4 linked regions of the Homo sapiens genome follow. The protein of the gene in region 1 purifies or fractionates together with the protein of each later gene. This does not show direct contact. Each region holds a gene or a part of one and is shown on either strand. Other genes may lie near its edges. The genes, in order: BTK, PLCG2, ANKRD54 and MAP3K4.

Region 1 (7,034 bases):
GGAGGCTGAGGCAGGAGAATTGCTTGAATCTGGGAGGCGGAGTTTGCAGTGAGCCGAGATGGTGCCATTGCACTCTAGCCTGGGCAACAGAGCGAGACTCCATCTCAAAACAAAACAAAACAAAACAAAACAAACAAAAAACAAAGAAGGGAGAATGAGAAGTAAGTTTTTTTGCTTTCTGCTTTTCTGCCAGTGAGACTAGGACAATTTGAGCCTTGGCCTGACTGAAAGAAACAGGGGCGCAAACTCTGATGCTTACAGGGGCCAGGCAAGTTAAGTAAGAGTGAAGTGAAGTGGATCGAGATTGCAGGAAATGGAGAGTACATGCCTAGAGGAAAGGAGGCGGTTCGTGAGAATGTGGACCTGGTATTTCCAGACGGTGTAGATTTTCAAGAGAAGCTGGAAATTCCAGGGTTTTTTTTTTTTTAAGCGAAATGTTTCTTTTTAAGGGTTTGCTAATTATTATATAACATAAAAAAAACCCACACATGTGGGCCAAATGCATCCACAGGCCCCAGTATGTGACTCTGAAGGAACCAAATGATGGCCCCATGCCAGGAGCAGTCCCATTGGGAAGCACAGTCCCTTCTGTTCCAAATCCAGAATGGCCACTGAAAGACCCCACCATTTTCTTGTGGGTGGTAGGGGGTTGGGAGTGAGTGACTGCTCTGATTCCCACCACGGCAGACTTCATGGAGCTGAGGCTGGAGATATTTGATGGGCTCAGCACTGGGGCAGAGGCACGCCTAACTTATAGTACTTTCTAGATAAAATTGAAATGATGGCACCAGCAGCCCCCCTCAACCATGTATGATATATCTTCCACTGCTACTTCCACCCCATCAGCCCTTTGTCCTAGGCCAATCCTTCTAAGGTCCCACCAGGTCTCGGTGAAGGAACTGCTTTGACTCCAGGTATTCCATGGCTTCACAGACATCCTTGCACATCTCTAGCAGCTGCTGAGTCTGGAAGCGGTGGCGCATCTCCCTCAGGTAGTTCAGGAGGCAGCCATTGGCCATGTACTCAGTGATGATGAAGATGGGGCGCTGCTTGGTGCAGACGCCATACAACTGCACCAGCTTCTCATGGGAAAGATTCCTACAGGAAAGGCAAGGAACTAGTCTTCTCCTTTTGGCTCTGCATAATAGCAATAAAGGGGCTGGGGAGGAAGGGGCTGACCTAGGAGTAGAGCATCAGATAAGGGGTCACACCAGCAAGTTTATTTTCCTCTTTCCCACCCTAAATCTCAAAAGTGCTTAAAATGTGGAAGCAAGCAGGGATTTGGAGCCCATCAATTGAAAAAGAAACAAGTCCAGGAATGAAAGAACGCTAAGGCTAAATTAGAATATTTCTCTTGAAAGTTTAATTTTCTACATCTACCCCCAAATGCTACTGAGATGGTACACACCCATGATCACCACTATTCTCAACCAATATCTAAGGCACAGAAACTATTATCTTAGCACTTAGGACTACCGCCAGTTAAAGGTAAACTTCAGTCCCTCGTCCCAAACCTCTCTTACTGTAAGTCATCTTTAAGCCTCAGTGGGTTGTTGTGTGAATTCCTAGACTCCAGCAAATAGATTGAGAGTTGAGTTTGGGCTATAACTCACATCATGACTTTGGCTTCTTCAATGAATTCATCTTCAGACATGGAGCCTTCTTTGATCATCTTGATGGCCACGTCGTACTGGCCTCTCCATTTCCCATACTTCACTACCCCAAATTGTCCAGTCCCCAGCTCCTTCAAGAAGGTCAGGTCCTTTGGATCAATTTCCCATGATCCTAACAATAAAGTCTTGGTGTGATTCTTTGGGGTCATGAATGTATAATTCTTACAATAGACAAAAATCCCTACTGGGGTAGAAATAGGAAAACTAGTAAAAGGGAAATTTTTAGAAGTACTAATCTGTCTTTGCTTAAGTCAATCTCAGAAACGGGATTCATTGGTTAGAGGAATCTGGGAATTTTAGGTTCAAGGTGGCCATAAGGCAAGAAGATAGACTAAGCAACCTCCCCAAATCCCTTTATGATTATGTTAGTGATGGTAGTTAATGAACTCAGGGATAGTACTGAAAATTTTCCCACAATTAAAAATAAAAGACAAAAAGACCCAAGACAACGACAAAGCCCTTTATGAATCTATGTTTTTGCAGTCCCAGTCGTAGCCACTAGAGGAAGAAAATCAGTGAATAACTTTTGCTTGGATCTGTCTTGAGCGTCCTTGAGGCAGCTGCTGCAGAACAGTGTACCTCAAGGACACTCCCTAAGGCAAGGCCAGCAAAGGTAGTTTTTGCAACTGGCCAGTCCACCCTACCCCAGAGAAATAAGGAGTTACCGTATCCCAGGCCTGCAGTGGAAGGTGCATTCTTGTTTTGTTGAGACACTGGATATTTGAGCCTGGATATGAGTCCTGAAACAGAGAGAGAGGTCATGCTGTTGGTGTGGTGTAGGAGGTGGGATGCCTCACACATCCTCACTTAAAGCCTCACACTTCCGGTGTGTATCTTTCTAGTACATTTTGAATCCCAGAAGACCTCCATGAACCCACATATTTCCAGAGGTTTCTCCTCTCACAAAATACTTTTCAGGGACAAAAAAGAGAAAATACTAATTGAAATACACTGCCTAACTGAATATATTCCCACCTCCCAGCCCAGGCTTAGCTCACATCCTACCTTCTTGATGAAGCTGTTCCCCCATATCCATGCCCTCACTAATGTCTCAGTTTTTAGAAATTTTACAGTGCTTATAAACTTTCTTCTGATGTTGTCTAACCTGTATGTTCTTTGAGGACAAGGACCTCGACTCAGAATGTTCCCGTGTTCTCCTCTAGAACTGAGGAAATCGCTGAGTACACAGTAGGAACTCAATGAATACTTGCTGATGAATCAGTCACCAGCCTCTTTTGTGTCTTCTCTTAACACTGAACATCAATCACCAAATAAAGAGTCAGTCCCTGTTGGGTGTAGGTCTGCCTCTGACCACCTCTTTACCAGCTTCTACCCAGTATCACAGGGATTTCCTTTCACAGTGAATTCACACTGTCCTGTGAGGCAGATTCTTCCTCTTATCACCTTGTCCTGCATTGCTTATCCTGGTGTCTGTAACTCCCTTCTCAGTTGCCCCTGGTACTCACCTGCAGAGTTGTGCTGATGGTAGTTAATGAGCTCAGGGATGGTGCTGAAAAGGTGCTTCTCAGCCAGGTAATACTGGCTCTGAGGTGTGGAACACACAACATAATGACGTATCACCCCTTGAGGGTCCCTGAAGAAGTGGATGCTTAGTCAGTAACTTGGGCACAAAGGTCAACAGAACCCAGGAAGTGAAGTGAGATGAGTTTTGAGTTTCAGAGACAGAGGAAGTGGGACGGGCACAGCATCAAGGAGCTATTAGGAGGGTACCCCTGTTCTTTGTCCTCAGGGCCTTGGAATAGTAGCACTCACCCTGTGGATTTAGCAAACACAGACACTGTATATTTGCCAGCTTTGCTGGAGTCTCTGACAATGAAACCTCCTTCTTTCCCCTGAAACAACGAAAAAGAAGCTGTCTGTAGGAGGAAGTGGTGCTCACACCTGCATCCCACCTGCCCAAACTTGAGAGAGAAAATAGAACAACCCCTGATTTTACTGCCAAGTTCCACGCTTGAGCTACAGCCTCATTGCTTTTAATATTAAAAGGTGCAGGCCGGGCATGGTGGCTCATGCCTGTAATCCCAGCATTTTGGGAGGCCGAGGTGGGCGGATCACCTGAGGTCAGGAGTTCGAGACCAGCCTGGCCAACATGGTGAAACCCCGTCTCTGCTAAAAATACAAAAATTAGTCGGGCGTGGTGGCATGTGCCTGTAATCCCAGCTACTTGGGAGGCTGAGGTAGGAGAATTACTTGAACCCAGAAGGCGGAGGTTGCAGTGAGCCCAGATCACGCCACTGCACTCCAGCCTGGGTGACAGACCGAGAGTCCGTCTCAGAAAAACAAAAACAAAAAAAATGGTGTAATTGGGATCCCAGACGATGGCAGCTTTGACACTGCCTTGCCCAAAGGTAGGGGGCAGAACAGGCCCTCAGTTCAAGATCCTCACTTATGCAAGGAGAATGCTGTGTGCTAGTGGTTCCACACTTACCTCTTGCTTTAGCAGTTGCTCAGCCTGACTCCGAGTCATGTGTTTGGAATACCACCTGTGAAGGGAGAGTGCTGCTTGAGTGGCTCCTGGTCATAAGCAGATTGGAGGTTACAGCACCCTCCAGGGCTTGTCCATGTCAGTGATTCAGTCAACTCACTCAAACCCTATTTACTGAGCATCTGTCATGTGCATAGCACACTGTATCCCTTTCCCAAACCCAGGTTGGCATTGAAGATTCATGGAAATGGAGAGTAGCAGGCAAAGGCAAGCAGCAGGGAGTTGCAGGGAAGAGATCAGGGACTAGGGCACTTGAGAACAATCCACTTCCATGATTAGGGAGGAAAGGACAACAGTAGCAGTTTGACATTTTAATTCTTTCATCAGGTCGTCAACTCCTTTTTCTTTGAGTGTGATTCTTCTGGATTTGAGGGCATGGTGACCTCTCCAGCTCTCATAAATGGAGGGTGTTTGGGGGGTAAAGGTAAGACAGATACACTAATTTGAGGTGGTGGCATCATTTGATTCAGATGGTACTAATTTTAATATATATCTTGAAATAAAAAATATGTTGAAAGTAGAAAAAAGTGTATATATATATATACACACTTGTGTATGTATACATAATATACCTATATATACACCAGTGTATGTATACATATGTATACATATATACACTTGTGTGTGTTATATATATATATAAATATATATAAAATATATATAAATAAATAAATATATATATATATAGAGAGAGAGAGTTCCTCCTGGAAGATTGTGGACTGACATAAACATACTTACTCATACATTTCTATGGAGTCTTCTGCTTCAGTGACATAGTTACTAGGAATGTAGCCTTCCTGCCTGTGAAGGAAACAATGTGGCAGTTCATCCAGCACCTCCCCAGCCTCCAGGAGACAGATTCATATGCCCACGTCCCTGAGCTCAGAACAAATCTCAAATGGAGGTATATGTATCATGCACCTCCCTCAAAGACAATCATGTCTCTGATGCATGGTTAGGCAGTGAGCCAGTGAGGTGCAGAGCTTATGCACATGTTGCATTGGTTATATGTGCCCAACAACAGAGGCTCAGAGATGTGGCAGAGGCCATGTATAGGGAGCTGCACGCTGGGAAGTACTTGGAGGGAGAGCATGTTCAGTCTGGTGTGGGAAGAACAGTCTCTGATGAGGATGCTGATCACGGGAATTATGCCGCAGCACTTTTTGCGTGTAGGGAGTGGGCAGGCACCAGGCTCAGGAAGGGCTGGTGTGGACTCACCCATTTTTATCTCGTGCTCTCCACCATGGTAAGTTGCTTTCCTCCAAGATAAAATATTCATCACCCTTCCGCAGCTGTAGATCATTTGCATTCATTGGCATGTAATCATAAAGGGCCACAACCTTTTTCAGCTCACTTGTGGAGACTGGTGCTGCTGCTGGCTCAGGCGGTAGTGGCTTTTTCAAGATCTATGTAGTTAGGAGAAAAGGTAGGAGGGTTTGTCAAGATACCAAGCACTCTTCTCTTCTCTCCCAACTCTCTGGCTTACTCAAGACACCCAAATCAGGCATACTAAAATATTACTCAGCAGTCATTCAACAACCATTTTTAAGCACCAGTGCAGGAGTTCTCAGCCTTGCACACATATAAAGACCATGTATGGAACTTTTAAATTCCAATGTACTTTCGGAGGCCAAGGCGGGCGGATCAGTTGAGGCCAGGAGTTCGAGACCAGCCTGGCCAACGTGACGAAACCCCATCTCTACTAAAAATGCAAAAATCAGCTGGGCATGGTAGTGTGTGCATATAGCCCCAGCTACTCAGGAGGCTGAGGCAGGAGAATAACTTGACCCCAGGAGGCGGAGGTTGTAGTGAGCCAAGACCACGCCACTGCACTCCAGCCTGGGTGACAGAGTGAGACTGTCTCAAAAAAAAACCCACAAAAAACAAAAAACCAATTCCAATACCTAGTCAGTTTCCTCACAGACCAATTACATCAAAATCAAACTCTCAGGAATGGGACCCAAACATTACTATTTTTAAAGCTCACTAGACAAAAACCATTTATAGCTAAGGTCAGGAAACCGGCTTGGCACTAAACTTGTACGTGAATCTACTAAGTGGCTCAGAACCTTGGTTTCCTTCTTTGTAAAATGAGTATAATAATACCTGCTCTACTTACTTACAATATGTGAGAAAGGGCTTTCTAGCCCTCAAGAAGGAACCAAAAAAAAAAAAAAAACTTCTGAAGTGTTAGTGATAGGTGGTGTTAGTGCTAAGTGTTGAGTATGTTGGTATTAAGTGTTAAATTCTTCTAACTTTACTGTATGTTTGAAAATACTTTCCAGCTGGGCACGGTGGCTCACGCCTGTAATCCCAGCACTTTAGGAGGCCGAGGCGGGTTCGAGACCAGCCTGAACAACATGGTGACACCCCCATCTCTACTAAAAATACAAAAATTAGCTGGGCGTGGTGGTGCATGCCTGTAATCCCAGCTACTCAGGAGGCTGAGACAGGAGAATCACTTGAATCTGGGAGGCGGAGGTTGCAGTGAGCCGAGATCATGCCATTACACTCGAACCTGGGCGACAGAGCGAGACTCCGTCTCAAAACAAAAACAAAAGCAAAAACAAAACAACAACAAAAACTTTACATTAAAAAAATCAGGTTTTGTTCTAAACAGGTGATTGGATTACATGGTTGCTGAGAGCCTTCTATCTTTCCATCGAGGAGGAAATCCTAATTAGAAGAACAAATCCCCCATCTTAGCAAGAATACCAATTAACACTGCCAAGTCCCAGGGTAATTCTAAGACTCTAGTGTGTTCTTAGGGCTTGACTATAAGTTTCCATTTAAGCAGTGGCAGCACCCAGTTTCCCTGTATACCTGGTCCTCCTCAGGCGTTGGGGGAAGAGGCT
Region 2 (7,034 bases), on another chromosome or scaffold:
CTCCCCAGAAACAAAAGCCTGTACAGCCTGCAGAACTGTGAGCCAATCAAACCTCTTTTCTTTATAAATTACCCAGTCTCAGGTATGTCTTTATAGCAGTGTGAGAACGGACTAATACAGTCTAGCTGCTGATTGACTGTTAGAATGAACTGGAATGACTGTTTGCTCCATGGCATTCCGGGAGGCTATCAGGTAGCCCCTACACTCCAATAGCATGGTTCCAGGCTGGACAGTACTATCTGACACTAGGCGTGTGCCTCTTAAATCGGAGACATGAGCTCTGCCCTCATGACCAGCTGTCTCCAGCTCTATGTACCTTCTCTCGCTGCCCAAGTCCCATTTTTATGCACTGGGCAGCCCTCCTTGTATAAAAAAAAAAAAAATAATTGTTTTTCTTCTTCTTGTTTCTAGTCATTTCACTGGGGAAAGGGAAATACAGACACCTTTTAAAGTAAGATCAATGCATCTGGCTTTGAGCACCCAGTGAGAGGGCAGCCTGCAGAGGAGGAACACGGGGTTCGAAATTAATTAGACATTCCTGGGTTTGAATCTCAGCTCTGGTCCTACAGGTGTGTGACCTTGAGCAAGTTAAGTCATAGTCTCTCGGCCTCAAAGTGCTCAGAATTTTAAAACCAAAGATAAAACCCCTTTCACAGGATTACTGTGAGGATTAAAAGAGAAAGAGTTTAAGGTACCTAACACAATAAAGGCTGCTGCTTTCCTTCCTGCGCTCCAACTGGTTTAAAAGCTTCAGTGCATCTCTAATGACAATGGGTGAAGTTTATTTTTTCAGTATGGAAGACCCTCAATGCCTCCTGTTCATTCTATTTCATTCCTCCCATGAATATGGATGTGCCAGGCACTGCTAGGAGCTAGAAAGAAGTGAGGAAAGGTCCCTGCTGAGAGTATCTCACAGTCGGGGGAGGAGAAGGTCACATTTTTAATCTCCCTTGAGGTTTTGACCTTTGTTTTTTCCAAATCTCCAAGCTAAGTCATTGCATTCTGCAGATGAATTGACACACTTTGATGCCCATTAAGGTAACGAGGTTTTATCATCAACTCTGACATCTCTGCAAGGCACTGGGAGGGGTTATGAGGCTCAAGGCCCTCATCCTTCAAGAGGACGTCGGGGTAACCAAGGGGTTTCAGCACAGCTGCCCCTCTCTGCTGGATGAGTTCAGTAGAGGAACTGGCAGGCAGTTACCATAAAAAGAAATCTGTTACAGCGTCAAGGCTAGGAACGTAAAGGTGTACCAAAAGCTACACTTCCTGCACCAGAAGAATTGGTGTCATTCCTAAGCCTTATTAGACTAATCTAAAAGAAGCAAATTAAGGAATCACAGCCCTGATCAGTGCCGGGTTTAAAGTAGTTTATAGGCCAGGCACAGTGGTTCACTCCTTTAATCCCATCACTTTTTTTCAGACCAACATGGCAAAACCCCGTCTCTACTAAAAATACAAAAATTAGCCAGATGTGGTAGTGTACACCTGTAGTCCCAGCTACTGAGGAGGCTGAGGCAGAGGTTACAGTGAGCCGAGATCACCCACTGCACTCCAGCCTGAGCGACAGAGCAAGACTCCATCTCAAAAAAAAAAAAGGGGGAGTTTACAGTGTGGGTGAGTTAACCCAGAAGGGTTGCCAAATATCAGGCCTCTTACAAATGAATACTCATTATTATTGCTAGAGTAGCAATGTTCATGAAAATGAACATTTCTAGAGTACAAAAAAAAAAAAAAATCAGAAACTTTAAACATTTTCCCAAAGTCTTGTTTCATCTAGTAACTTGCTAAGGAATTCATTTCCTCAATGGTAAGATAGGCAGCCTTGACATAGTTTGGTTCTGTCAAAGTGCCATCCAAGCACCATCTGGGGAGCTGCCTAAAGATGCAGATTCCTTGGCCCCACCCTGGGCTGACTCATCACCCTGTGGTGGGTCCAGGAACCTGCACTTTCTTCTGAGTCTTGCTCTGTCACCCAGGCTGGAGTGCAGTGGTGCAACCTCAGCCTTCCAAGTAGCTGGGATTATGATTACAGGAGTGAGCCACCGTGCCCGGCCAGCACCTGGATTTTCTAGCATGCCTGCTGCTCAGAAACTGGGCTCCTGCCCAGTAGCAGAAATGGTCAGGTTTATGATATTATACAAAAAAAGGTGGAAGTTGAGGGAATGTCTGAAAACAAAAAAGATCCAATTCAGCTCTTCATTGAGCCCCACGTTTCCAAACAATATCAAAAGACTGTATTTTTTTATGTAAGTAACTAAAATGACAGTCATCTTTCTCTTGAAAAATGATCCTCAGAAAACAAGGGAACAGTGACCTCTTGAGGAATCCAGAAGAATCTATGATCTCATATCTCATGCACCATGCATCAGAAATACTAAAGGAAGAGGAAGAAGGAAAATTCAACATCCAGCAAGGGCCTATTTGTCAAATATTATACCTAAAATCCAGTGGGAAAGATCCAGTGGGAAAGTAAACTAGAGAAACTATATAGAAGCTAAGGAGAGCCAGTTTTTTTTGTTTTTGTAAATGACTGGCTCTAGAAGCAGCAGGGTCCCAAATCCCCTCACCTGGAAGTGTCTATCTCAGCTGTGTAGGAAGGGCTCAGTCATCTGGGATTCAGCAGGGTTCTTAAGAGCTGGTCGTATGACCCAGCTTGGCTTGGTTGCAGAAAAATACAAAATGACCCTTCTTATACCATGAAGGGATCTTGTGTTTTCTTCAGCAGGGAAGAAAACTGTAACAACTCAAAGAAGTAAATTAACCCACCCAATTTTATAGAAGAAGAAGGTGAATTCTGAAGGGTTTGGGGAGTTGGACCCTCGAGATTGTTACTCCCCCCCCAAGATGCCAAAGGTCTCTCCCTTGCCACCCTCTCACACTGCCAGCCAGAGAGCAGGAGGGGGAGATCAAACCAGACTTAGCCCTAGCTAGGGAGAAGCAAACCGCATGTAATATTTCAAAATGAAATCAAACTGCAGTGCCAGGTTGAGGATCCACTAACAATCCAGTTTTGCTTGTAAACATCCCACTTTGAGGGGCATAGCCTCCCCTGTCACCCACTTCCTCCCACCTGTGTGCTACACGACAGGCTGTACACCTGCTCTCCAAGCCACCCAATCGGTTTTACAGTGATTCCATCCAAACCAGGAAAAATCATTTTTCATTCTTTTTGAAGCCAGCAGCCAAACCAAAGTACAACGCCAGCCCAAATCGAACATCTTAATTAAAATGCCTCTTACCTGATTTGACTGCTTTAATGGGGTAAGTGGCATGAGCAAGAAAGTTGGGATCGCTGAACATATCTTCTTCATAAACCACAAAGCGCAGAAATGCCAGGTTTGGGTCATAAATTTCAAATGTCACCTTCTCCTGTGTTGGAGCCCAGATAGGGCTGAGGCCATTATCATCTGGAAGGAGATCAAAGCTCATGAGAGGCCACATTGGAGCTGCCCCCTTCTGGTAAGACAATCTCCGCATCCTTCAGCTGTGAATCCCCTTAGCAACCATGTAAATAAATATGCATCTATGCCAAGATCTAAGAAAATCTGAATAATTATCTTCACTCCCCCACCCCACCTTGAGCAATCCTGGAAGCTGCTGTTGCAGGCTGGTCCCTTGGTGAGCAGAGGAAGGAGACCACCTCCCATCTCCCCGCCCCAGGATCAGGGACAAGGGAACGGGGGAGGTGTTTGTTTGCAGAGCAGGAAGGTGGATTTTGGAAAAGACAAAAGGGGAGGAGAGCCTGGGAGCCACATCCACCAGCAGGGGGTTCTACAGCTGGCAGGGGAGAGCCCAGCCTCACAGAGCAGGCAAGCAGCAATCCTGCCACTCTCCATAAATGCCAGTTTATTTGGTCAGCATCTGAGTTGTTCATTGGGCTACTTTTTACCAGGGGCAAGGATCCTGTGCTTTAGAAGGCCCACCAATCACGGTTCCCTCCTGGCTTTTCCTGGAAGAGCAAGCATTCCTCTTGTCCCTCCTGCCCTCTAGGGGCTAAGATCTCCCAGGTTAGGCTGATCCTCTGGGTCAGGTCAGCCACGTAGGTTCACCCCCTCTCTCTGTGTCTCTGCCTCTTGGCCTTTGACTCAGGAGATTAATCAGATTGGGCTGTTGCACAGAGAGGACCAACCTAGTGTCAGGGCCTCACCTACGATTCCGGACTTGAGTTACAGGCAGGCAAACAGCACTGGGGAAAGTCTAAGGATTTCAGAAAGTGGCCCTTTGTATGTATCCCCTCCTCAAGCTGAACCATGTGGGCAAGAGGGAGGAAAGAAAACCCTGGGACAACTAAAGAGCATTGCAAAATCCCCCACGAAGAGCACTCCCACAAAGGATTCACTGGCCGGACGTTTAAAAGCAGAGGGGCCAAGGTGACTGACTTACTCACAACCGTCGTCTTGAACTTGTTGTTGTCATACTCGGCTCCACAGATCTCCACTTCTACAAAGGGACAGGCAATACTTCGTCCAAGTTTGGGGAGATGGCGAGCACCGAGAACCTGGGACACCAAAGGGAAGCATTGGAACCCCCCTGGGGTCCTGAACAGGCAGCCTAGCGTGGATTGCAGCTGGGTTCTAGAGTGACACTGGATGAGTTCAATGCCAGCCCTAATTTTCCTAGATTCACTGGAAAAGCCGGAGCAACCTTCTGCAGTGGATGAAGGTGGACTGTGGTAGATCCCACAGTTCCTCAGCATCAGCCTGGGTCTCGGCCCCATATGCCACCTGACTCAACAGGTAAAACTCACCTGAGCTCATGAATGCACACATCCATGCCCAAGCAGGTGCCTCTGATCAAGGCAGAGCTTAATCACTGGATTTCCACACCCCTAGGAAAGGCTGAGGAACAGTGTGGCATTCTTTTTATAACTGCTGTTTATTTAAAGGCCTGTGTTTACGTATGCTTCTTCCCCCTACCACCCGCCCGCCCTTAACCTTAGGAGAAATGCAATTCATTTCTCTACTTTTCAAAAATTCTTACAAAGCAACAACACTTTCTCTGAAAGTCAGATGAATTTTAAAAAGCCCTGGAATTGGACAAAGTAAGGGAAAAAACTTCTCCATTAAGACCAAATGGCTGTTTCCCATGTTTTCTTTCTCTTTCCGGCCAGAGGCTGACCTCACCAGGACCCCAGAAAGATAGGGTCATACCTCACCCCCACAGAGGACAAGGGGAAGTGGGTTTGAGGAGGTTTCCCCTCTCTTCCCTCTTCTCCCAGAACGACCCCGGAGTGTACTGTAAGAAAGAAAGATCCTCAAACACTGCCTGAATGGGGATCGTTTAAACAAGACAACCAGCCTCCCTAGACATGGGTTCCCTGCTCTCAAGACAGCATCGGCCCAGCCCCCAGGGAGGGCGGCTGGCTCCCCTGGCAGGAAGGGAGGGCTGGCTTTACCTTGACTGTCAGCGTCATCAGGATCTTCCTCTGGGACTCGGGTGGCATCGGGTCATATTTCTCTGTCCTCATGCTCTCAGGCTGCAGAACGTAGCCCGTGCGCCCATTGAGAGAAAACAATGCGTGATTCATCTGCATGTACTTATCTGGGAAGGAAAGTGAACGCCTGCTGTAAGTCAGGCATGAGCACGCTGGCCCCCTAGGCCAGGAGTTTCTAGGTGGGGAATGAATTTCACCTTTTCCCCAAATTAATGTGAGGCAGCTGTTCAAATAGGTATCTCACTCAAAGAAAATATAGGGTTTCTAGACAGCAAACTCCCAGACTGGGGAACACCTTTCCAAGTATGTCACCAAATCCCGAATCATAAAAGAAAAGATTCAAACTTGCTAAAAGTGTCTATGTAGCAATAAATTGCATAGGCAATTTTAATTCAAATGACAAATATGTGAATATAAATTTTTAACCTCTTAGTTCTGATACATCTATGCTATAAATACCTACTGCAGTAGATACATCAGGTAAGAAGCACAAATAGTTCCCAGAAAAGAAAATGCCACTGCTCCCTAAATGAGGGAAAAACTGGTTAATGTCCCTTACAAGAAGAAGCTCTAATGGACGACGATGTATCAGTTTTCACCTCTCAGTTGTGCAAACGGCAAAAAGTTCAACAAAACTCAGCGAAGTCATACCAAAAGAGCGTACTCCAACCTCCACCTATTTGCATCCCCGCCCACGATCTCTATGGAGGGCAGTTTGGCAGTGTGGCTTAGCTCAGGCACGTCTTCAGTGGTTTTCCTCAGGGCAAAGTTGATCAAAATGCAAGCGCTGTTTGACCCACCCTGCCTTTCTGAGAATTCTGTCCCATAGACATATTCCTACATCTGTGGAATGGCGCTCACGTCAGGGTACAGAAGGCAGTGCTGTCTATGACAGCAAATAATGGGGAATACCTACATGTGCCTCCACGGGGACTTATTAAATAAATGATTGTTCCATTCTGTGGAATCCGATGTGGCTATAAAAAGAATGTAAAGGAGGCTACTGATGAATAGATCCCTCGAAAGAGGTCTTAAATAACAACAACAAAAGCACAAAGCCCCGTGATTTATGCGATCACTTTGTGTCCAGAAGTTTGTGTATGTTAGTTATGCCAGCATGTAAATGTCTCTGGAAGAAAGTCTGAGCAGAAAGCCCTCACACAGCAACAGGCCTGGAGAAGAGAACTCCAAAGATGCTTTAATTACATGAACTAATGCATTTTCTTTTTCTAAGCCAGACTAACTCAGCCTCTGTCACTTACTTACAATCACGAAGCCTGCGTAAGCCAAGCAGCCTTCGGTCCTCTCATCCCTCCATTCAGCTGCTGGACCTCATACTAACCATTACTCTGCTGAACCGTGCAGTCCCTCGGACAAATCACTCATTCTTGGACACCACATGGTATCGCTGACCCAAGGTGACTCGGCCTGGAGTGACTGCAACCGCCACCTTGCAGGGACGGGACTACCTTCAGTCGGCCTTTACCTGCCGTCTGGAAATTGAGTGCCACCATCTGAGAACCGCACAGCCAGAGGCGGAAGGGGTCGTAGTTTGAAGAGTCAACTCTTTGTCCCTTTGGGTAGACGCGGGTCAGGC
Region 3 (7,034 bases), on another chromosome or scaffold:
CATAGACATAAGTGTGAATGCTAAAACAGGCTTCCAGAAGAACATGAACATCTTGGGCAGGCAAAGATTTCTTAAATAGGTCACAAAAATACTAACCATAGGAAAGAAAAGGCCAGGCATGGGAGCTCAGGCCTGTTAATCCCAGCACTTTGGGATGCCGAGGCAGGTGGATCATTTGAGCTCAGGAGTTCAAGACCAGCCTGGGCAACATGGAGAAACCCTTTCTCTATACTAAAAACACAAAAATTAGCTGGGCATAGTGATGGCAGACTTGTAGTCCCAGCTACTTGAGAGGCTGAGGTGGCAGGGCGGCTTGAGCCCAGAAGGTCGAGGTTGCAGTCAGCCGAGATGGTGCCAGTGCACTCCAGCCTAGGCAACAGAGACAGACCCTGTCTCAAAAAAAAAAAAAAAAAAAAAAAAAAAAAAAGAGAAAGGAAAGAAATATTGATAAATTGGATTCATTAAAATTAAGAACATGGCTGGGCACGGTGGCTCATGCCTGTAATCCCAGCACTTTGGGAGGCCAAGGCAGCCAGATCATCTGAGGTCAGGAGTTCAAGACCAGGCTGTTCAACATGTTGAAACTGTCTGTACTAAAAACACAAAAATTAGCTGGGTGTGGTGGCATACCCCTGTAGTCTCAGCTACTTGGGAGGCTGAGGCAGGAGAATTGCTGGAACCTAGGAGGTGGAGGTTCCAGGGAGCCAAGATCATGCCACTGAACTCCAGCCTGGGTGACAGAGCGAGACTCTGTCTCCAAAAAATAAAAAATAAAATAGGCCAGGGCACAGGAGCTCACGCCTGTAATCCCAGCACTTTGGGAGGCCAAGGCGGGTGGATCATCGGAGGTCAGGAGTTCGAGACCAGCCTGACCAACATGGTGAAATCCCATCTCTACTAAAAATAAAAAATTAGGTGGGTGTGGTGACACGCATCTGTAATCCCAGCTACTCAGGAGGCTGAGGTGGGAGAATAGCTTGAACCTGGGGAGCAGAGCTTGCAGTGAGCCAAGATCACACCACTGCACTCCAGCCTAGGCAACAGAGTGAGACTCTGTCTCAAATAAATAAATAAATAAATAAAAATAAAATTAGGAACTTGTGTTCATCAAAGTATACCACTCAGAAAATGAAACAGCAAGCTCAGAAAATCAAGTCATTTATATTTGATAAATGATTTCTAACCAGAATATACAAAGAATTCTTACAAATCAATAAGAAAAAGGCCAGGCGCAGTGGCTCATGCTTGTAATCCCAATACTTTGGGAGGCCAAGGTGACAGGATCGCCTGAGCCCAAGAGTTAGAGAACAGCTGGGTAACATAGCAGGACCACGTCTCTACAAGATGTTTTAAAATTAGCTGGGCTTGGTGGTGTGCACCTGTCGTCCCAGCTACTTGGGAGGCTGAGGCAGGAGGATTGCTTGAGCCTAGGAGATTGAGGCTGCAGTGGGCAGTGATCAGGCCACTGCACGTAAGCCTGGATGACAGAGTGAGACTTTGTCTCAAAAAAAGAAAAAGACAGAAAACTAGTTTTTTTTGTTTGTTTGTTTGTTTTTGAGACAGAGTCTTGCTTTCTCTCCCAGTCTGGAGTGCAGTCACGCGATCTCGGCTCACTGTAAGCTCCGCCTCCCGGCTTCACACCATTCTCCTGCCTCAGCGAGTAGCTGGAACTACAGGCACCCGCCACCACACCCGGCTAAGTTTTTGTATATTTAGTAGAGATGGGGTTTCACCGTGTTAGCCAGGATGGTCTCGATCTCCTGACCTCATGATCCACCCGCCTCGGCCTCCCAAAGTGCTGGGATTACAGGCGTGAGATACCGCGCCCAGGCAAAACTTGTTTTTAAAAAAATGGACAAAAGAGGCCAGGTGCGGTGGCTCACGCCTGTAATCCCAGCGCTATGGGAGGCCGAGGCGGGTGGATCACCTGAGGTCAGGAGTTCGAGACCAGCCTGACCAACATGGAGAAACCCGGTCTCCACTAAAAATACAAAATTAGCCGGGCGTAGTGGCGCATGCCTGTAATCCCAGCTACTTGGGAGGATGAGGCAGGAGAATCACTTTAACCCGGGAGGCAGAGGTTGTGGTTAGCCGAGATCACGCCATTGCACTCCAGCCTGGGCAACAAAGAGTGAAACTCTGTCTCAAAAAAAAAAAAAAAAAAAAAAAAAGGACAAAAGATTTGAACATATAGTTCATAAAAGAGGATGTAAAAATGGTCAATAATTGGACACAGGGAGGGGAACATCACATACCAGGGCCTGTCGGGGGGTGGGGGCCAAGGGGAGGGAGAGCATTAGGACAAATACCTAATGCATGAGGGGCTTAAAACCTAGATGACGGGTTGATGGGTACAGAAAACCACCACGGCACAGGTGTACCTATGTAACGAACCTGCACGTTCTGCACATGCATCCCAGAACTTAAAGTTTAAAAAAAAAAATGGCCCGGGCATGGTGGCTCACACCTGTAATCCCAGCACTTTGGGAGGCCGAGACAGGTGGATCTCCTGAGGTCAGGAGTTTGTGACTAGCCTGGCCAACATGGTGAAACCCTGTCTCTACTAAAAATACAAAAATTAACTGGGTGTGATGATGCGTGCCTATAATCCCAGCTACCCGGGAGGCTGAAGCAGGAGAATTACTCAAACCCAGGAGGTGGAGGTTGCAATGAGCCGAGATCACGCCATTGCACTCCAGCCTGGGCGACAGGCAAGACTCCGTCTCAAAAAAAAAAAAAAAAGGCCAATAAACACATGAAGAGGTGCTCAACGTTACTGGCCATCAGAGAAATGCAAATTAAACCACTATGAGACACCAAAAGGGTTAAGATTAAAGAGAGACAACAGCAAGCACTGGCAGGGACGTAGGGAAAGGTGGAACTCTTACACTGCTGGTGGGGAGTGGGAGTGTGTGTCAGTACATCCCTTTTGGGAAAAGGTTTAGTAGTACCTACTAAAGCTAAATACATGTGTACCCTAGTGACCCAACAATGCCATTCCTAGGTTTATAGAGGATAGATGAGTGTTTACAGCCACAAATCACATATACAAGAATGTTCACAACACTTCATTCATAAAGCTAAAACCTGGAAACACCACAAATGTCCGTCAATAGTAGAATGGATAAATGGGGTATATCACAATGAAATACAAACCAGCATAAGAAAGTACTAACTACAGTCCACCCTCCCTAACTGTGAATACTGTGTCCACAGATTCAATGAACCCTGGACTCAGAACCCGAGGATATGGAGGGCCAACTTCAAAGGACTTGAGCATCCATGGAGTTTGGTATCTGAGTGGGGTCCTGGAACCAATCCCAAGAACACTGAGGGAAGACTGTACTGATATAGGCAGTATTCATGGGTGAATCTCATGGAGATAACTTTGAGTAAAAGTATGCAAGGCTGGTGCAGTGGCTCACGCCTGTAATCCCAGCACTTTGGGAGGCCAAGGCAGGTGGATCACGAGGTCAGGAGTTCAAGACCAGCCTGGCCAACATGGTGAAACCCCATCTCTACTAAAAAATACAAAAAAATTAACCGGTGTGGCCGGGTGCAGTCTCTCATGCCTGTAATCCCAGCACTTTGGGAAGCCGAGGCGGGTGGATCACGAGGTCAGGAGATCGAGACCATACTGGCTAATACAGTGAAACCCCGTCTCTACTAAAAACATATAAAAAATTAGCCAGGCATGGTGGCGGGTGCCTGTAGTCCCAGCTACTTGGGAGGCTGAGGCAGGAGAATGGCGTGAACCCGGGAGGCAGAGCTTACAGTGAACCGAGATGGCACCACTGCACTCCAGCCTGGGCGACAGAGCGAGACTCCATCTCAAAAAAAAAAAAGACTCCTATAAAAAGAGAAAAGCTGTCCTGCTGCTGTGGTTGGCACTGAGTAAATGTTACCTGAAAGTCTTGAAGGCCTGGGCCCTGCACTCTCCAGTGGTCTCTTAGTTGGAGATATCCCTTCATCCTCAGTCAATCATATTATCTCCCCCAGGTTTACCCTGCCCCAGTCTAACATTGCCAGTTCCACAGGCTAACAGAGGGAGAAGGGCAGGGCACTGCAGTGCCAAGTCTTCCTTATATCCAGAACAACTGGGCATCCCAAGGCTGTGCAGACAGCAGCGCCTCCCCCAAGGCCTGTGCAGAGACACTACTTGCCTAGCCCTACTCCCTCCTCCCTCCCCAGGACTCACCAATCTGGTCATTGCCATTGCATGAGGCAAAGTGTAGAGCTGTGCGGCCCTTGTCATCAGCTGCACAGGGATCCGCGCCATCTTCCAGCAGCTGCTGCACTGACACCACCAAGACAGAGGGAGGAAGGGGGAGAAAGCGGCGATGTTAGCTAAGCTGCAGACCCGAGCGATGGAGAGGGAGGCTCAGGGGTGCCTCTAGACAAGACATCGACAATGCATAGGAAAGCAGCCCTTCCTAGATGCTGGTCCTATGGGAACAAGCAACTTGTTCTTCTGAGGGCACAACTGAAGGCCATGGATTCTGAGTGCTCAAACTACACGTCTAGTGATAGAACATCGTAGGAGGTTCAAGGCCCTCAGGGTCAGAAATTTTAGGGTCACAGGAATCCCTAGCATAGACAGTGGTCCCCCTCCCGTGACCTCGGCTTGGATACACATCCATTCTGGCTGGAAACAGCTGCCCAAGCTATTGGCCTATGCTATGCTCCCAGCAGGCAGCAATCCCCCAGCTACTTGGGGCCTCCCAAGTAGCCCCCAGCTAATTTTTGTATTTTTAGTAGAGACGGGGTTTCACCATATTGGTCAGGCTGGTCTCGACCTCCTGACCTTAGGTGATCCGCCCACTTCAGCCTCCCAAAGTGCTGGGATTACAGGCGTGAGCCACCACACCCGGCCCGAAAAAATGTTTATGATACACAAAAAATTATGCAGGCTACAGCATGTGTATATAGCAGTTTGCAAGCCAGCCCATAAAGAAAATTCCAGTGTATAGGAAAGAAGCCTTGAAGGATATTCATCAAAATATTAACAGATTAGTTCCTTTGCGGACATGGATTTTTTCTTATATATTTCTCTAATTTCCACAACATTTTTAAAAAATTTTTTTCTTATGTTATTTATTTATTTGAGACAGAATTTCGCTCTGTCGCGCAGGCTAGAGTGCAGTGGCGTCATCTCCGCTCACTGCAAGCTCTGTCTCCCAGGTTCACACCATTCTCCTGCCGCAGCCTCCCAAGTAGCTGGCACTACAGGCGCCCACCACCACGTCCGGCTAATTTTTTGTATTTTCAGTAGAGATGGGGTTTCACAGTGTTAGCCAGGATGGTCTCGATCTCCTAACCTCGTGATCTGCCCAGCTCGGCCTCCCAAAGTGCTGGGATTACAGGCGTGAGCCACCGCGCCCAGCTAACATTTACTTTTTGTAGAGACGAGGTCTCCCTATGTTGTCCAGGCTGGTCTCAAACTCCTGAGCCCAAGTGATCCTCTTGCCTTAGCCTCCCAAAGTGCTGGGATTACAGGCATGAGCCACCTCACCTGGCCGTGGCAGCTAAGTTGAGTATTCACTCCCATTAACCACAAGTTCCAAAGTTAGTGCCTACTCTTTGCAGAAGACTGTGCTGGCTGCCAGGGATACAAAAGTATACATGGTCTCCACCATCAAGGAGTCCACAGGGTGGTAAATGCTATGACATCAGGAAGTTCAAAGTGACAGGGGAGCATGGGGAGAGTGAGTGTCTAAGCCAGACTTACCTTCAGCAAGATGACTGCACAGTCAGACAATAAATACAGTGAGCCTGCTCCAAGGGCGTGAGTTTGCAGACTGCCTTCCCACATATTGATTACCTGGCCTTTTCCTTCCCCAACCAGCCCATGGGACCCTGTAGCTGGACCTACTGTGCACACTCACCTGTTTCCACATCATTGGCATTGGCCGAGTCCCTCAGTCTCTTCAGAGCTGTAAAGAGAGTAACGGATGCCAGTTTAAAAAAACAGCCATGGCTGGGTGCGGTGGCTCATGCCTATAATCCCAGCACTCTGGGAGGCCAAGGCAGGCAGATCACAAGGTCAGGAGATCGAGACCATCCTGGCTAACATGGTGAAACCCCATCTCTACTAAAAATACAAAAAAATTAGCCGGGCGTGGTGGCAGGTGCCTGTAGTCCCAGCTACTCGGGAGGCTGAGGCGGGTGAATGGCGTGAACCTGGGAGGTGGAGCTTGCAGTGAGCAGAGATCGCGCCACTGCACTCCAGCCTGGGTGACAGAGTGAGACTCCGTCTCAAAACAAACAAACAAACAAACACACACAAAAAAAACACAGCCATTGGCTGGGCATGATGGCTCACGTCTGTAATCCCAGCACTTTGGGAGGCCGAGGCAGGTGGATCACTTGAGGCCAGGAGTTCAAAACCAGCCTGGACAACATGGTGAAACCCCATCTCTACTAAAAATACAAAAAAATTAGCCGGGTGTGGTGCACATGCCTGTAATCCCAGCTACTCTGGAGGCTGAGGTAGGAGAATCACTTGAACCCAGGACATGGAGGTTGCAGTAAGCCAAAATCGCGCCACTGCACTCCAGCCTGGGTGACAGAGTGAGACGCTGTCTCAGAAAAAAACAAAAACAACAAAAACCAACAAAAAAAACCCAGCCATCTAGCTGGGTGTGGTGGTGTGCACGTGTAACACCAGCTACTTAGGAGGCCGAGGTAGGAGAATGGGTTGAAGCCGGAAGGCGGAGGCTACAGTGAGATGAGATCACGCCACTGCATTCCAGCCTGGGCAACAAAGTGAGACTGTCTCAGGAAAAAAAAAAAAAAAAAAAGCCACAATGGCTGGGCGCAGTGGCTCATGCCTATAATCCCGGTACTTTGGGAGGCCAAGGCAGGTGGATCACTTGAGGCCAGGAGTTCAAGACCAGCCTGGCCAACATGCTGAAACCCCATCTCTACTAAAAATACAAAACTAGCCATACGTGGTGACTCACGCCTGTAATCCCAGAACGTTGGAAAGCTGAGGTGGGCAGATTGCCTGTGCTCTGGAGTTTGAAACCACCCTG
Region 4 (4,146 bases), on another chromosome or scaffold:
GAAATCATTTTTTTTTTTACTTAGCATATGAGTGACTTTTTTTTTTTTTTTTTTTTTTTTTGAGATGGAGTCTCGCTCTGTCGCCAGGCAGGAGTGCAAGTGGCATGATCTCGGCTCACTGCAACCTCCGCCTCCCGGGTTCAAGCAATTCTTCTGCCTCAGCCTCCCAAGTAGCTGGGATTACAGGCACCTGCCACCATGCCTGGCTAAGTTTTGTACTTTGGTAGAGACAGGGTTTCACTGTGTTGGCCAGGCTGGTCTCGAACTCCTGACCTCATGATCCGCCTGCCTCAGCCTCCCGAAGTGCTGAGTGACATTTTTAAAGATTGAGAATACTATCTTTTAGAGAGTATATAAAGAAACACACATGTTTTGGACAGAAATTCCATGTGGTAGGGCTGCTCCGGAGACATTTCCAATCTCTATCAAAATTTTAAATGTGCATAGCACTTAAACCAAGAAGTTTTCTGCTTCTGAAAATGTATCTTATGATGATAATATTAATGAGCAGTTATACAAATGTAAAAAGACACGCATGAACTGCACATGGTAGCTTACCGTACACATACAGTATTATAGCAAAAAAGTTAGAAACCTTCATTTCTAAGTTAAAAGTTAGTGTTAAGTTACTAGTAGGAAATCAGTTAATTATAATGTAGCTATGCCTTGCAGCTGCTGAAACAGATCACATATAAGTGCTCAGTAAATATTAGCTAGCATTATTTCTATTAGCATTAAAATAGAAAGGCAGTTGTGATATCTGTGTTATTCCAGTAAAGCCACACATAAAAGAACAGGTTCTCATATTGAAGAATACATATTGGCAATGACGAAACAATAGTTTAGAAATTAGAATGCCATACACACTTAGTTCCTTCCCCTGTGAATCTCATTTTTCATAGGATCATAATGAAATAAGCTTTGCACTAATGCAATTTTTATTTTTCAATAAGGTAGCATATTAACCATCCCTATAAGAGAATTGGGTTTTATAGACTTTTTTATGTCATTTTATATATTTTTTAGTTGCATGATGATGGCTTCTAGATACTGTTGGACTAAATAGTGCACCCCAAATGGAGTAGGCAAACTATGCTGGCCACCTGTTTTATAAATAAAGTTTTGTTGGAACAGTCATATTCATTTATGTGTTGTCCATAGCTGCTACCATGCTGCCATGAGATTAGTGAATAGTTGTGATAGAGATCATATGGCCTGTCAACCTAAAATATTGTTTGGCCCTTTCAGTAAAAATTTGCTGTCCCCTGATATATATTAATGATGAGATGCTTAAAAACAGACTGAACATTTGCGTTGTTTGTGGCTGTGTAATATTAAAATCTGATTTTTTAAAAACATCTTTTTTAGAGGCCTTGGCATGAGTATGAGCACAACTTTCAAATTATGTATAAAGTGGGGATGGGACATAAGCCACCAATCCCTGAAAGATTAAGCCCTGAAGGAAAGGACTTCCTTTCTCACTGCCTTGAGAGTGACCCAAAGATGAGATGGACCGCCAGCCAGCTCCTCGACCATTCGTTTGTCAAGGTTTGGCAGATTACTGGATAGTCTTTTTCATGTTTAAGTGTTTAAGTTCTGTTTTGCATCAAGACGTTAATGAAATTTTGAAACTTTAAAGTAGCTATATCTGAAGTGGAAAGGAACTAAATGTATTATTATGCCAGGGATTTTTGTATGTGTTTTTTCATTTGGAAAATGTTCATTGAGGTTCTTCCACTTGATCTGTTTTGATGGTGCATTTAAGATACACCAGAGACAGTAAAATGGACTTTTAGATGGGACTGGATGAAAGAGTTTCCACTCTTGAGAGTGTATAGTCTACTTGGAGGGTCAAGACGGTAATGACTAATCATTATACTGAGAGCTGTGATAATGGTATATAAGGTTACTCAGAAGAGGAATTTAATTAAGTCAGCCAATCTCAGTTCTTTTTTCTCTAGAATGAGGTACCTTAGTTGTTTAAGAGCCACAGCCAGGTCAGAAGTGGGGGAGGGGGCATGGAAGACAAAGTAAAGAAACTTGGAAACGCTCACCCTTCCGGGAGAGTGGGATGGTCACAGAGCCCTGTGTAGGTAGATCCTGGTGAACACAGGATGTGGACAAGGGCAGGAAGATAAGGCTAGAACAGTAACCAGGAGCAACATGAAGGAGTTTCCATTTTATTATAAACATAAATGATGACATAGAGTTTTAGAAAGATCACTCTAGAGGCAAAGGAATTGAGAAGGTTCTGATACAGCCAAGGGGTTGGGAGAGGGCGTTCCGGGTGAGTGAACAGCGGCATTTAAGAGTTAGAGTGCCGTGGCTGACCCCTGATTGGATGTGAAAGGTGAGTGAGGGGAGGAGTCTAGAGTGGCTCCCAGGTTTCTGGTTTGTGTCATCAGGTCACAGACTCTATTTGCCAGGGTAGGGAAAGAAGCAGCTGGGTGAGGGGTGGGTCGGGAGGTGGTGGGTCCTCTTTGGTGGATGAAGCTTGGGGTACATTTGGAGCATCTGCTTGGAGATTTCACATGGGCATTTGGATACCTGGGGCTGGCACTCAAGAGGGATTTTGGGTAGGGCACAGGTGTGGGAGACAGAAGTATTGCTGGGAGGGTCCACAGAGGACAAGGGGATGAGAACAGAGCCCTGGAGAAAAGAGCCTTGCAAGGGCCCTGCAGGAGAGAGTCCCTGGGAAAGGAAAGGAAGGGGCAGAAGAGTGGGGTGATGCTCTTATTGGTAAGTGGGAGTAAGGGGCAAGCAGCAGGATCAGCTATGGAGACATTAGGGATTTGTAATTAAATAACAATTTATGTCTTAGTTATGAAGTGCATAACAATTTATATTGACCTGAGAGTGCATATAGGCGTTTTAGAAAATGCTTTCATTAGTCAGTTCCCAGGCTTAACTTTAGAGCAGTAACTTACCTCTGCCATTGTTCATTACATTTCTTAAGCCTTGCCCTCTGTGCCCAGTACAGTGCTGGGAGCATCAGGATGAGTGGATGGGGCCTTCCCCGTAAGACTCATACTGCGCGTATGCACAAGCACACACCTGGCTCTGCAAGAGCTCAGCTCTCTCCTGCTTCCTCACAGGTTTGCACAGATGAAGAATGAAGCCTAGTAGAATATGGACTTGGAAAATTCTCTTAATCACTACTGTATGTAATATTTACATAAAGACTGTGCTGAGAAGCAGTATAAGCCTTTTTAACCTTCCAAGACTGAAGACTGCACAGGTGACAAGCGTCACTTCTCCTGCTGCTCCTGTTTGTCTGATGTGGCAAAAGGCCCTCTGGAGGGCTGGTGGCCACGAGGTTAAAGAAGCTGCATGTTAAGTGCCATTACTACTGTACACGGACCATCGCCTCTGTCTCCTCCGTGTCTCGCGCGACTGAGAACCGTGACATCAGCGTAGTGTTTTGACCTTTCTAGGTTCAAAAGAAGTTGTAGTGTTATCAGGCGTCCCATACCTTGTTTTTAATCTCCTGTTTGTTGAGTGCACTGACTGTGAAACCTTTACCTTTTTTGTTGTTGTTGGCAAGCTGCAGGTTTGTAATGCAAAAGGCTGATTACTGAAATTTAAGAAAAAGGTTCTTTTTTCAATAAATGGTTTATTTTAGGAAAGCTCAGTTATATTGTCTTTTAATGGTTAACACTTATGAGCCAACGCAGTATGATACAGAAGTCTGTCATTTTCACTCATCTGTTCCTCAAAAGGAGGAGCACAATCACGTGTGCTAAAGATGGTCACTGGGTTCGGCGTCTCTTTAGGATCGCCTCGCTGAAAAGCAAAGGAAATAAATGAAGCAACACTAATGACGTAAGGTGGTTCCTTTTAAGTAGTTTCTATTAACCAGCAAGTTTATAACAGATACAAGTTTAAGCCTTGTTATCACATGTTGGGAGTTCACTTTATTTTTAAACCAAGATGTTTAGGTGCTAGGTCAGTGTAATTACTGCTGAATGATCTGATGAGAAAGCATCTTTTTCAGAAGTAAACATTTCAGCATTTAGCTTTCCAAAACAGCCCAAATTATACATCATTGGTGTTTTTTTTGTTTTTGTTTTTGCTATTAAATTTTTTAAAAAGATTGACCATAGAGCTTCCTGAAATCTTTTTGGAAGATCACTGACTCTCACTCCT

The links.
Region 2: the proteins of BTK (region 1) and PLCG2 purify together in Homo sapiens (affinity purification with western blotting; 2 studies listed by BioGRID). This does not show direct contact.
Region 3: the proteins of BTK (region 1) and ANKRD54 purify together in Homo sapiens (affinity purification with mass spectrometry; 5 studies listed by BioGRID and IntAct, with this or other methods). This does not show direct contact.
Region 4: the proteins of BTK (region 1) and MAP3K4 purify together in Homo sapiens (co-immunoprecipitation; 3 studies listed by BioGRID and IntAct, with this or other methods). This does not show direct contact.

Annotation. Positions count from the first base shown.
Region 1 is NC_000023.11:101,355,171-101,362,204, forward strand, and holds part of BTK (tyrosine-protein kinase BTK), read right to left. Parts: coding exon 7,003-7,034; intron 5,586-7,002; coding exon 5,398-5,585; intron 4,981-5,397; coding exon 4,918-4,980; intron 4,178-4,917; coding exon 4,123-4,177; intron 3,527-4,122; coding exon 3,447-3,526; intron 3,268-3,446; coding exon 3,140-3,267; intron 2,414-3,139; coding exon 2,339-2,413; intron 1,786-2,338; coding exon 1,614-1,785; intron 1,099-1,613; coding exon 882-1,098; intron 1-881. UniProt on the Homo sapiens protein: Non-receptor tyrosine kinase indispensable for B lymphocyte development, differentiation and signaling. Binding of antigen to the B-cell antigen receptor (BCR) triggers signaling that ultimately leads to B-cell activation.
Region 2 is NC_000016.10:81,936,268-81,943,301, reverse strand, and holds part of PLCG2 (1-phosphatidylinositol 4,5-bisphosphate phosphodiesterase gamma-2), read right to left. Parts: coding exon 6,924-7,034; intron 5,545-6,923; coding exon 5,399-5,544; intron 4,502-5,398; coding exon 4,387-4,501; intron 3,411-4,386; coding exon 3,243-3,410; intron 1-3,242. UniProt on the Homo sapiens protein: The production of the second messenger molecules diacylglycerol (DAG) and inositol 1,4,5-trisphosphate (IP3) is mediated by activated phosphatidylinositol-specific phospholipase C enzymes. It is a crucial enzyme in transmembrane signaling.
Region 3 is NC_000022.11:37,834,302-37,841,335, forward strand, and holds part of ANKRD54 (ankyrin repeat domain-containing protein 54), read right to left. Parts: intron 5,934-7,034; coding exon 5,886-5,933; intron 4,298-5,885; coding exon 4,199-4,297; intron 1-4,198. UniProt on the Homo sapiens protein: Plays an important role in regulating intracellular signaling events associated with erythroid terminal differentiation.
Region 4 is NC_000006.12:161,113,755-161,117,900, forward strand, and holds the end of MAP3K4 (mitogen-activated protein kinase kinase kinase 4), read left to right. Parts: intron 1-1,368; coding exon 1,369-1,548; intron 1,549-3,095; coding exon 3,096-3,116; 3' UTR 3,117-3,626; downstream 3,627-4,146. UniProt on the Homo sapiens protein: Component of a protein kinase signal transduction cascade. Activates the CSBP2, P38 and JNK MAPK pathways, but not the ERK pathway. Specifically phosphorylates and activates MAP2K4 and MAP2K6.